Linked DNA regions of Homo sapiens. The protein of the gene in region 1 interacts with the protein of each later gene in a biochemical or structural test. Each region holds a gene or a part of one and is shown on either strand. Other genes may lie near its edges. The genes, in order: VCPIP1, SPRTN and WAC.

Region 1 (3,600 bases):
TATGTACTTTTTAATAAGGTCCTGAGGCACACCCCATGCTTTAGGAAGCAAATTCATAGGCAGTTTGGGCAAAGCAGCCCCTTTTATGCCTACCAAGGGGATATAATGGTTTCTACCGGAGCTGCTCCATGCAATACAGATTGGTTTGTTCAAATGACCATCTTTCCCAGTGCACTTCTCTGCAGGGATGAGCCCAGGTAGAAAGGTGGCTGAATAATCACCAGAGCTTCTCATGCCACTGAGGGAATCTAACAGAATAATAGGACGATGTAGCACATTGGCAAGACCAAATATGTGGATATTCCTCAGGCCCAAGGGAACACCCTCAGGTGGTACAAACAGAGGGTCACACTCATTGATAATGTCCTCCCACTCAGCAGCATCAATGAAGTCATGGAACAGAGCTTGATATCGGGCCAGGTGCTGCTGAAAGTGCTGTTTAAGATTCTCTCTTAAGGCATGCCAGAAGAGCTCTCGGCCTACTAGAGCCCGAGACACAGCATGCACCAAGCAGTGTCCATCCCCGTCCACATGCACTGGAATGAGACATTCCTGGCTTTTATTGGCCCGCTTAATGTCCTCCAGAGTGTCATGCAAATACAGGAGGCTTCCGGAGCGGTCCTTGCCATAGCCCACAGTGTTAACATGCTCTGGTTCTATGAGGAAGGCGCGGTCACCCAGTAAGGCGCAATCGAACAGTTCGCCCTGGTTCATGTCCCGGAGAAGCTTGGCCCGGCCTGTCTGTTTGTCCATTCCATAGCGAGCTAATATGGGCGACAACAATTTGCAGTGATAGTTGGAAAGGCCCATCACCTTTACCAGTTCCGTGTTCTTCTTGGGTGCCCCCGTAACCCCGAGCAGCGCGTTCCGCAGCAGGTTGTGTAGCACTACGTCCGGGTCGGTCACCTCCTCAACCCCCAGCAGCTGTTGCTGCTCGTGCCGCTGGCCGCACTCGGTACACTCGATGCTGACAGAACCGGAGGCCGGGAAAAATAGACGCGCCTGACACTTCGGATCCGGGCAGCTCCCGGAAAGGATTCTCCGGTCTCTCCGCTTCAAAAGCCCCCCCGAAGCAGCCGCCGACGCCAAGGACGACGGAGTCTGTGGAGCCTCAGGGGGAGGAGGTGGCGGCGGCAACGGAGGCGGCGGCGGCGGCGGCTGAGACATAGCTCCTGGCTCTCGTGTCTCGCTCCGCGTCCCAGGCGACCCTCAAAAGCTCATAGCCCAGACCCCCACCAACCCGACTCGGTCCAGTCCAGGCCCAGGGCGAAGCACTTTCCTTTCCCTACCAGCTCTTCCTCCTCCTAAGCGAAGGCGGAAGCGCCGGACGTTGTTTCTCTTCTTACTTCTCCACTGCCGTAGCCGTTGCCCCGAACGTAACGGCCACCACCCCACCCCGCACTCACACTCACTCACTCTCGCTCTCTCTCCCTCAGACACAGACATACACGCCCTCATTGAGTGTGCGCAGGCGCAGCTTCCGCTCTGCCCTCTGGGAATTAGAGTCTTCCAGCCTCTGTGCTGGCCATCAAGCCCTAGGATCTTGAGTCCAGAAGGAACTACAAGTACCGTGAGGCCAAGCGGTTCAGCGCTAGAGGAGAGGAGGAAGAGGACGGCAACAGGAAAAGGGGCGAAAGAAAGATGGTGACTCGCGTTGCCTGCCGGTAGTTGTAGTTTTACTGGGCTCTCCTTCGTCGTCTTCCCCACTCTGCAGCCCAAGGCAAAGAGTCTGAGAGACCACATTTCCTAGGATGCCGTGCGGTGCGTCTAGCTGCACTTCCTCCTTAGGCGGAGGGGAGGATTCAGGGAAGCTTGGTTAAAAACAGTTATGGCAGTGGGAGTCGAAGCGAGGGTCTGAAGTTCACGACTACTAGAAGGGGAGGGGAGTGGAAAGGCTCTCAGTGAAAAAGGTACAGTAAATAAATGTCCAGGGATATTGGGGGCTGGGAAGTTGAATAAATGGTCTAATCTAGGCTGGAGGCCATAAGGGGGAAAACAGTTGATTCTCGGAAGCTCTGCCTTCTCCCCCTCTCTAGTGCGAATCACTGAGGCGCCATTTGATTTCTCGTTTCCTGCATGTTTTGGCAGTTTACAGTGCAAATAACGGTACCTTGGATGTCTGTAGAGTTTTGTGTGCATATACAAATTCTCTTAACTAGGTTTAATTTCATTTGCTCTTTACCACCCTACTCCCCAGAGAATAATAAGAGCCATCATGTGTTAAGTTCTTAATATGTGTCTGGACAGCATTTGCATAACACGATATCATTTGATCTTAAAAAATAACCTTCTTAGGAAACAGGCCCAGAAAGGAAATGACTTGCTAAAGTTCACGCAGCTGATAAGTGAGTGGATAGACATTCAGATCTCAACCTGTCTTCTTTTTACAGATCAGGACATAGGCAGGAAAGGTTAGGCCTGTATTACATAGAATAGTAACTAGCATTTGCTTACTATTGCCTTATAGTTTACATATTTAATAATATGTTCACATGTATCATCTCATCCTCACACCAGTCCTGTAATACCTTTACCAGGTGGTGTTGACTTCATTTACAATCAGGGAAACTGAGACTAAAAGGAATTAAGTGACTTGCCCAAGGTCAAGTCACCAGTTATGCTGGATCCCAATCTCAAACCTTGAGAGTGATTTTTACGCTGCTGCTTACCAAAAAATCCCGGCCGGGCGCGGTGGCTCACGCCTGTAGTCCCAGCACTTTGGGACGCTGAGGCGGATGCATCACGAAGTCAGGAGATCGAGACCATCCTGGCTAACATGGTGAAACCCCGTCTCTACTAAAAATACAAAAAAATTAGCCGGGCGTAGTGGCGGGCGCCTGTAGTCCCAGCTACTTGGGAGGCCGAGGCAGGAGAATGGCGTGAACCCGGGAGGCGGAGCTTGCAGTGAGCCGAGATCACGCCACTGCACTCCAGCCTGGGCGACAGAGCAAGACTCCGTCTCAAAAAAAAAAAAAAAACCCAAAATGTTAGGCTCAAATCTTTTGCTAGGCCTTAGAGTCTCCTCTTAGTGATGAAGGGATGTTTAATGTTAAGGAGGCAACAGCTTTATTCTTTTTTCACTTGGGTAGGAAACTGCCTCTTCATACAGAACAATATTCATATGTTAATTGAAAGCTAGTATTATTTTTGTACATTCATCCTCTTTCACTTATTACGGAAATTCTTGCTTTCTGGAAGTTTAGTATCACCTTAGGTAAGTGGACTACCTCAAAATTTCTGAAACATTTGGCACCAACTAGAAACATTAGTGAAGTCCATGAGATCATTTGAGTCTTCTGTAGCTGCCCAGGAAACCGCCTGATTAGGTTGTGTGTGTGTGTGTGTGTGTGTGTGTGTGTGTGTGTGTATGTATGTATGTAGAACTTGATGCTTTGAAATGAACCATCTGCAAAATAGAGGCCCATAAAGGGTATTAGTTTTGATGTGCACCTAATTGCTACAATTTTCTTGAAAATAAATATTTGAAAGAGAAATCCTCCATAATGGACCTTAATTACAAGAGAAGTGATTTTTCCTATCTTGGGATATTTTTCTTTCTTTTTTTTTTTTTTTTTTTGAGACAGAGTTTCACTCTTGTTG
Region 2 (3,830 bases), on another chromosome or scaffold:
CTTTCTACAGCTTTTGGGTTTTGATTCAGAAATCATGAAAACTTGAAACAAACACTAAAACCTACTGCTCATTCCACACCAAAGATGCACAAGTTTCTGTGCAAAATTAACAAAAGCATTTAAGATTGCTGGGGTTTTTGCTCTAAAAAATATAAATAATTTTTTTAAGCAAAAATCAGAAAGATCTTCAAAGACATACCTTTTTCATGATCCTCCATAATTTTTTTAAAAAACAATTTCCATCAGAAGAACTAGACTGTCATTAATGAATTTTAGTCTTATAAAATTATGCTGAACAGAAAAATGAGAGAATCAAACATTTTAACTTGGTCATTCATATATCCCTCTAAAAATTATCAACTGTATCTCTTAAAAGGAACTTTATTTATTTATCTTATTATTTCTCAGAGATGGGGTCTCACTTTTTCACCCAGACTGGAGTGCAGTGGCATGATTATATTTCACTGCAGCCTCAAATTCCTGGCATCAAGGGATCCCTCTATCTCATCCTCCTGAGCAGCTGGGATTACAGGCGCATGTCACCACACCTGGCTAATTTTTTTTCAATTTTTTGTAGAGACAAGGTCTCACCATCTTACCCAGACAGGTCAACTCCTGGGCTCAAGCAATCCATCTATCTGATTACGTGCATGAGCCACTGTACCCAGCCAGAACTTTATTTTTCAAGTAAATGCCGCTCAACGAAGAAGACTCAAATTCAAGAAAGGTACTGCAAAAGTTTCTCAATGTTCTAAATTAGAGCAATGATAAAGATCTATTCTCATAAAGGAGAAACAAATTTAGGTTCCTGATTTTTGGTTCAATTTAATTAAACATTAAAAAACATCTTGAAAATGGTACTGAACTTTTTAAATATCTATCATTTTCCATATTTAGTCTTAATTCAAGGATCTATACACAACACAGTCCCAAAATACCTCTGTTTTCCATGACTGTTCTATCGGGTTAAAATGAACTACCTCTAGTCCTAAATATGCCCCCAGTTGTCTGAACTCACTTTTGTTCACATTATTCCCATGCTTTCTGCCAAGAGTAGCCTCCTGTCCTATCTCTGCTTGTCAAAAGTACAATTCGTCCTTTAATGCTCACCTCTCCATGTTTTAATCGCAGGAGTGATGAGTTGAATGGTAAAGGGGACAGAACAAGAGCCTTAGAGTCAGGGAAACTGGAACCTAAACCCACAATCACAGCATGAGACCTGGGACAGGCTCCAAGTGGCTCCTCATCCCTAAAATGGGATATCCTCATTTTGCATGGCTGTGGTAAAGACGACGTTTAGTCCAAAGTCTGACACACAATAGGTGCTCAATAGTGAGCAGCAGGAGTGGTGATGGTAGTAACAAAATGTACAGTTATAAAGCTTTTCTTGACCTCCTCAACCAGATAAAGTCTGTTCCTTTTCTGAACCCCCTTCTCTATGATTTAGGTAACTACAGTTGTGCCTCACTTGGCAGGGATATGTTCTGAAAAATCCATTGTTAGGCAATTTTGTCATTGTGCAAACATCTTAAGAGTGTACTTACACAAACCTAAATGGTATAGCCTATGTAATATATATATATATATACACACACCTAGGCTATAGAGTATATATACCTAGGCTATAGAGTATATATACCTAGGCTATAGGGTATATATACCTAGGCTATAGAGTATATATACCTAGGCTATAGAGTGTATATACCTAGGCTATAGAGTATATATACCTAGGCTATAGAGTATAGCCTGCCGCTCCTAGGCAACGAACCTGCACAGGATGTTACTGTACTGAATGCTGTAGGCAAGTGCAACATAATGGTAAGTATTTGTGCAACTAAATATAAAGAAGAAAAAAGGTACAATAAAAATATAGTCTTGGCCAGGTGTGGTGGCTCACGCCTGTAATCCCAGCACTTTGGGAGGCTGAGTCGGGCGGATCACGAGGTCAGGAGATTGAGACCATCCTGGCTAACATGATGAAACCCCGTCTCTAGTAAAAAAAATACAAAAAATTGGCCTGGCATGGTGGCGGGTGCCTGTAGTCCCAGCTATGTGGGAGGCTGACGCAGGAGAATGGCCTGAACCCGGGAGGCGGAGCTTGCAGTGAGTGGAGATGCGCCACTGTACTCCAGCCTGGGCAACAGAGCGAGACTCCATCTCAAAAAAAAAATAAATAAATATAGTCCTGGCCGGGCATGGTGGCTCATACCTGTAATCCCATTCACTTTGGGAGGCTGAGGCAGAAGGATCACCTGGGGTCAGGAGTTTGAGACCAGCCAACATGGTGAAACCCCGCCTCTACTAAAAATACAAAAATCAGCCAGGCGTGGTGGCGCACACCTTTAATCGCAGCTACTTGGGAGGCTGAGGTAGGAGGATCCCTTGAACCAGGGAGGCGGAGGCTGCAGTGAGCCGAGATCATATCATTGCACTCCAGCCTGGGCAACAAGAGCAAAACTCCATCTCAAAAAACAAAAAATAAAAATAAATAAATAAATAAAAATATGGTCTTATAATCTTATGGGACCACTGTTATATATGGGGCCTGTCATTGACGAAAATGTCATTTTGTAACTTTCTGCCAACAGGAAATGCTCACTTGATACTATTATACATTCCCCATTCTCTTCTCACCCACTACTTAAAAACATTTTTTTCTCATGTGTTTATGTAATCATTTACCCAATACATATTCATTAAGCAACTCTTCCAGTTAGGGCTCCTTCTAAGGCTGATTTGGTTAATCATGCTGTTCAACTTTTTAAAATGTGTATTATTTTTTTCCGCTTATTCATTGGGTTACTAAGAAGGTTGTGTTAACATTCTTCAAGTATGAGTCTGGGTGTCTTGGCTGACACCTGTAATCCCAGCACTTTGGGAGGCTGAGGCGGGAGGATTGCTTGGGCCTGGGAGGTTGAGGCTGTAGTGAGACAGGGTCTTGCTCTGTCACCCCAGGCTGTAGTGCTGTGGTGTGATCTCGGCTCACTGTAACCTCCACCTCCCGAGTTCATGCGATTCTTGTGCGTCAGCCTCCTGAGTAGCTGGTACTACAGGCTGTGTCACCACACGCAGCTAATTTTTGTATTTTTAGTAGAGACGGGGTTTCACCATGTTGGTCAGGCTGGTCTCAAACTCCTGGCCTCAAGTGATCCGCCTGTCTCAGCTTCCCAAAGTGCTGGGATTATGGGCGTGAGCCACCGCACCCAGCCTGATTGTATATTCTTTTTGCTTCTGCTAATTTATGCCTCATAAAATTTAAAGTTATGTTATTACTTTTGGAGAGATTATGTATTGTTGCTTAATAGATTATTTTATTATTATAAAATATCCCACTTTTCCTCTAGTAAAACTTCTTCCCTTGAAGTCTTTAGTCTGATACTAATACTGGTTGAACATCCCTAATTTGACAATCCAAAATCTGAAATGCTCCAAAATCTAAAACTTTTTGAGCACTTACAAGATGATTAAAGGTTAAGTTCTAAGGAAATGCTCACTAAAGCCATTTCAGATTTGGGACTTTTGGATTAGGGAAGCTCAACCAGTAAGTATAATGCAAATATTCCAAAGTAAAAAAAAAAAAAATCTGAAACACTTCTGGTCCCACTTTGGATAATGAGTACTCAACCTTATAGCCACAATAGTTTTCTGCTTTTAAGTGTTTGGATGATTACTTTTCCTCATCCTTTTAAACTTAAAATAAGTGTGTCTTTACTGTAAGCATGTCTCTTTTAATCTAGCATGCCATTCCATGTATTTAATGGAGTGTTTAGTCCACTTACATTTAACTGATATTTTGTTTACACCTACCTTTCTCTTTATCATCTGAGCTC
Region 3 (3,830 bases), on another chromosome or scaffold:
GGAGATTGAGACCAGCCTGGCCAACTTGGTGAAACCCTATTTCTACTAAAAATACAAAAATTAGCCGGGCATGATGGCGTATGTTTGTAATCCCAGCTACTTGGGACATTAAGGCAGAAGGATCGCTTGAACTCAGGAGGCAGAGGTTACAGCGAGCCAGGATCACACCACTGCACTCCAGCCTGGGCAACTCTGTCTCCAGAAAAAAAAAAACCAAAAAACAAACCCTAACGATTGTACCTTAAGGTTTTTGCTTTTGGTTACTTTAAACAAGATTGTATGTTTTCAGACAGATCACAGACTATATAAAAATAACTCATTTCACAAAAAAATATTTTAATTATACTCTCACATAACCTATCTTAAATTTACAATAGACATTATTTCCTTTAATAAATCCTAATGGATAAAATCTCTAACTCTAAACTATACACGCTATGTTACAGCAAGTCTTATTTTAACTAGCAAGGTTTTTGGGAATAAAAACCTTCACAATCCCTGATTTCTCACTTTTTATATTGTATCTGCAAGTCCTTTCATACATTACTTCTGAACGAGCATTTTTCAATGAAATCCAAGATGCTAAGAAATCTAGTAATTACTGAAAAATGCTGTGATGCCAGTAAAGCCTAATCCTAAGGTAAACAAACGCACAAGTTCCACATTTAACTTGCTTTGTAAAATGCAAGTTACAAATCATAGCATATAGGTTATTATTAGTAAAGAAAATCATTAAATCTTAAAATGAAAAACTGGGAAATTTGAATTCAGTAGTTCAATGCATATAGTAAGTAACCTGCTGTAATCTTAAGTTTTTTACATGCTTAGAGCTTAGATAATCCAACTCACTTGCATTTGATTTTTGATAATGGTCTTGAATTTATATACATTAATTTTTTTCTTTTTTTTTTTTTTTTTTAAACAGACGGGTCTCACTCTATCAACCCAGGTTAGAGTGTGGTGGCACAACCACAGCTCACTGTTAACCTCAAACTCCTGGGCTCAAGCAATCATCCCACCACACCCAGCTAATCAAAAAAAAAATTTTTTTTTTTTTTAGTAGACACAGGGTCTTGCTATGTTGCCAAGGCTAGTCTCAAACTCCTGGCTTCAAAGGACCTTCCCATCTCAACCTCCCAAGCAACCAGCATTACAGAGATGAGCAGCTGTGCCTGGCTGAATTCTTTTTTTTTTTTTTTTTTTTGAGACAGGGTCTCAATCCGTCTCCCAGGCTGGAGTGCAATGGCACAATCTCAGCTCACTGCAACCTCCACCTCCTGGGTTCAAGTGATTTTCCTGCCTCAGCCTCCCTAGTAGTTGGGATTACAGGCACTCGCCACCGCAACCAGCTAACTTTTGTATTTGTAGTAGAGACAGGGTTTCACCACGTTGGCCAGGCTGGTCTCAAACTCCTGACCTCAGGTGATCTGCCTGCCTCGGCCTCCCAAAGTGCTGAGATTCCGGCGTGAGCCACTGACCCGGCCTGAATTCATTTTTGGATAAAAATCCAAAGGAGTTTATAATGCCTGCAATAAAAATCATACATATACACTTTTAACATCTTAGTGCCAAACACATCATTAGCAATAAAAAATAAACACCAGAAAACAAATTATAATGACTAAATATCTCACTATAAAATGAGGAAAAATCACCATTTTACGTTTTTTGAAGAGAGAATATCAAAGATGTACTCTCAATTCCAGAATGGAGATATACCTCATATTATTATTTCCATATAATATAAAGGAATATGGCAGCCAGGTATGTTAGAGATGGTAGAGACAGGAATGGAATCACAGTATTAGCTGGAAGACTCCAGAAGACGACAATCAGCTAGAAAGAAAATTGGAAAGTGGGGCCTAACTTAGCAAGTGATTAGATCAGAAAAACATCAAGTTTCTTGCAAATGAAGCTAAAGAAACATCAGGAAAGATGCAAATTTTTAAAAACGAAAAGCTAACAAGTACCTGGAGTTCATACAGGTAGAAAAATGAAAAAATCAAAGTGAAGAAAAAATGGGTACAGAAAAAGTAAGTGGCTAAAACACCACTAGCTCTCAAGAGTCAAAGCATTTAAGAATAGCTTCAAGGCCAGGATCACATCTTGACTCCCAGGAGTATCACACAAATGTTGGCACACAGTAGATGCCCCAGGTTTGTTGAATGAATAAGCAACAGAATGTTCTTGGGATTACTTCACCTGTAAAAGAATTGGCTGAGCAAGGTTTGCTGGAAATGATTGAAAGCATTTATAACTGAAAAACTGACTTCTTGCATTTGGGGATAAACTGGATCATAGTCACTAAAATAAGAGCCTATTTGTAAGAAGATGAGGTGCCATATCCTATTTTGTTACAATCACCAAATTTTTCAAAATAAATACAGTATAGTACAACCAGTACCTGCTCTCCAAGAGCTAACATTAGAAATGAAATCCACTATAGAAGAGTGGTTGATAGAGAGTACCATCTCAGGCTTTACATAATACTATGGAAAACTTACCCACAAAACTGATAACTCTAAAAGCTTAATTTTGCAACCCAATAACTTGTAACACTTTAATAATCAAATACACCTGCTACTACTGTTACAAAAATGTGGTTTATCTGCATAAATAGCACTAAGCTATAACTACATTCAATAGAGAACTACTTTCTTCTCATCCAAATTATTCAATCCCAGTGCAATCTTCTGACTGTATTTTCTCAAACCAGTAATTATGTAGAGGAAGCCAATGTTTCTCAGTATATGATCACACTGAATAAAGCTGATTTCTATCCTAGGTGGACAAAAGGGGCAAGATGCAAGGTATTTTTTTTAAAGTAAGCCAAGTATTGAAGAACTAGCTGCCAATAGGGGCAAAAAGTCACATGGTACTTTACTGAGTTTCCTTGGAAGCTTTTAATATTGTAAATCTGCTTAAGATATGTTATCTACTTAAGCAACATGTAGGAGAGAATATAGGTGTCTTTACTGAAATTGCTTTGTTCCTTAATGCATGCTTTTGACATGAAATGTAATTCGGGCAAATTAAGTCTGAAAATAGTTACTGAGAATTGGTTTTGTTTACTTATTCTCAGACTCCTACCACAAAGAGCTTGAGGCAAACTTATAATTGAAGGTACAGGACTGTGCAAAAGAAATCAGACTAACTTTTAAAAAGAATATTTCAATGAACCAGGTATAAAAATCACATCACCAAAACTGGAGAATACTGAAAATGTTTACAACAAAAAGCAAGAATGTATTTTCTAAGTCATAAATAATTTTTTAAATCTGGGAACTATCCTGAAAAAACATAATGAGTTTTTAAATTCATAGTTTATCATTGTAATTAGAAAACAGATTTGAACACCTTAAAAAGTAACAAACTGAAGCAACAATAAGGATCTCAAACTGAAATCTTTAAAAGGTCAAAGTTCCTTTCTTGGAAAAAAGTCCTGCATTTTTCCCATCCTTAAGAAAGCATGTTTTAAACTATATTCATAAATGCATTCCCTTATTATTAAACACTAAAGTCCGCTTTTTTTTTTTTTTTAATGGAGTCTCACTCTAGCACCCAGGCTGGAGTGCAGTGGCACCATCTCAGGCTGACTGCAACCTCCACCAACCAGGTTCAAGTGATTCTCCTACCTTAGCTTCCTGAAGAGCTGGCACTACAGGCGCCTGCCACCACCACCATGCCCAACTAACTTTTGTATTTTTAGTAGAGATGGGTTTTCACCTGCTGGCCAGGCTGGTCTTGAACTCCTGACCTCAGGTGATCTGCCCGCCTCGGCCTCCCAAGTGCTGAGATTACAGGCGTGAGCCACCGCGCCTGGCCTTAAG

Evidence for each region.
Region 2: of the proteins of VCPIP1 (region 1) and SPRTN, one has a biochemical effect on the other in vitro, tested with the Homo sapiens proteins (one study listed by BioGRID).
Region 3: the proteins of VCPIP1 (region 1) and WAC form a complex in vitro, tested with the Homo sapiens proteins (2 studies listed by BioGRID).

Annotation. Positions count from the first base shown.
Region 1 is NC_000008.11:66,665,792-66,669,391, forward strand, and holds the start of VCPIP1 (deubiquitinating protein VCPIP1), read right to left. Parts: upstream 1,441-3,600; 5' UTR 1,168-1,440; coding exon 1-1,167. UniProt on the Homo sapiens protein: Deubiquitinating enzyme involved in DNA repair and reassembly of the Golgi apparatus and the endoplasmic reticulum following mitosis. Necessary for VCP-mediated reassembly of Golgi stacks after mitosis.
Region 2 is NC_000001.11:231,341,084-231,344,913, reverse strand, and holds part of SPRTN (DNA-dependent metalloprotease SPRTN), read right to left. Parts: intron 1-3,830. UniProt on the Homo sapiens protein: DNA-dependent metalloendopeptidase that mediates the proteolytic cleavage of covalent DNA-protein cross-links (DPCs) during DNA synthesis, thereby playing a key role in maintaining genomic integrity.
Region 3 is NC_000010.11:28,535,956-28,539,785, reverse strand, and holds part of WAC (WW domain-containing adapter protein with coiled-coil), read right to left. Parts: intron 1-3,830.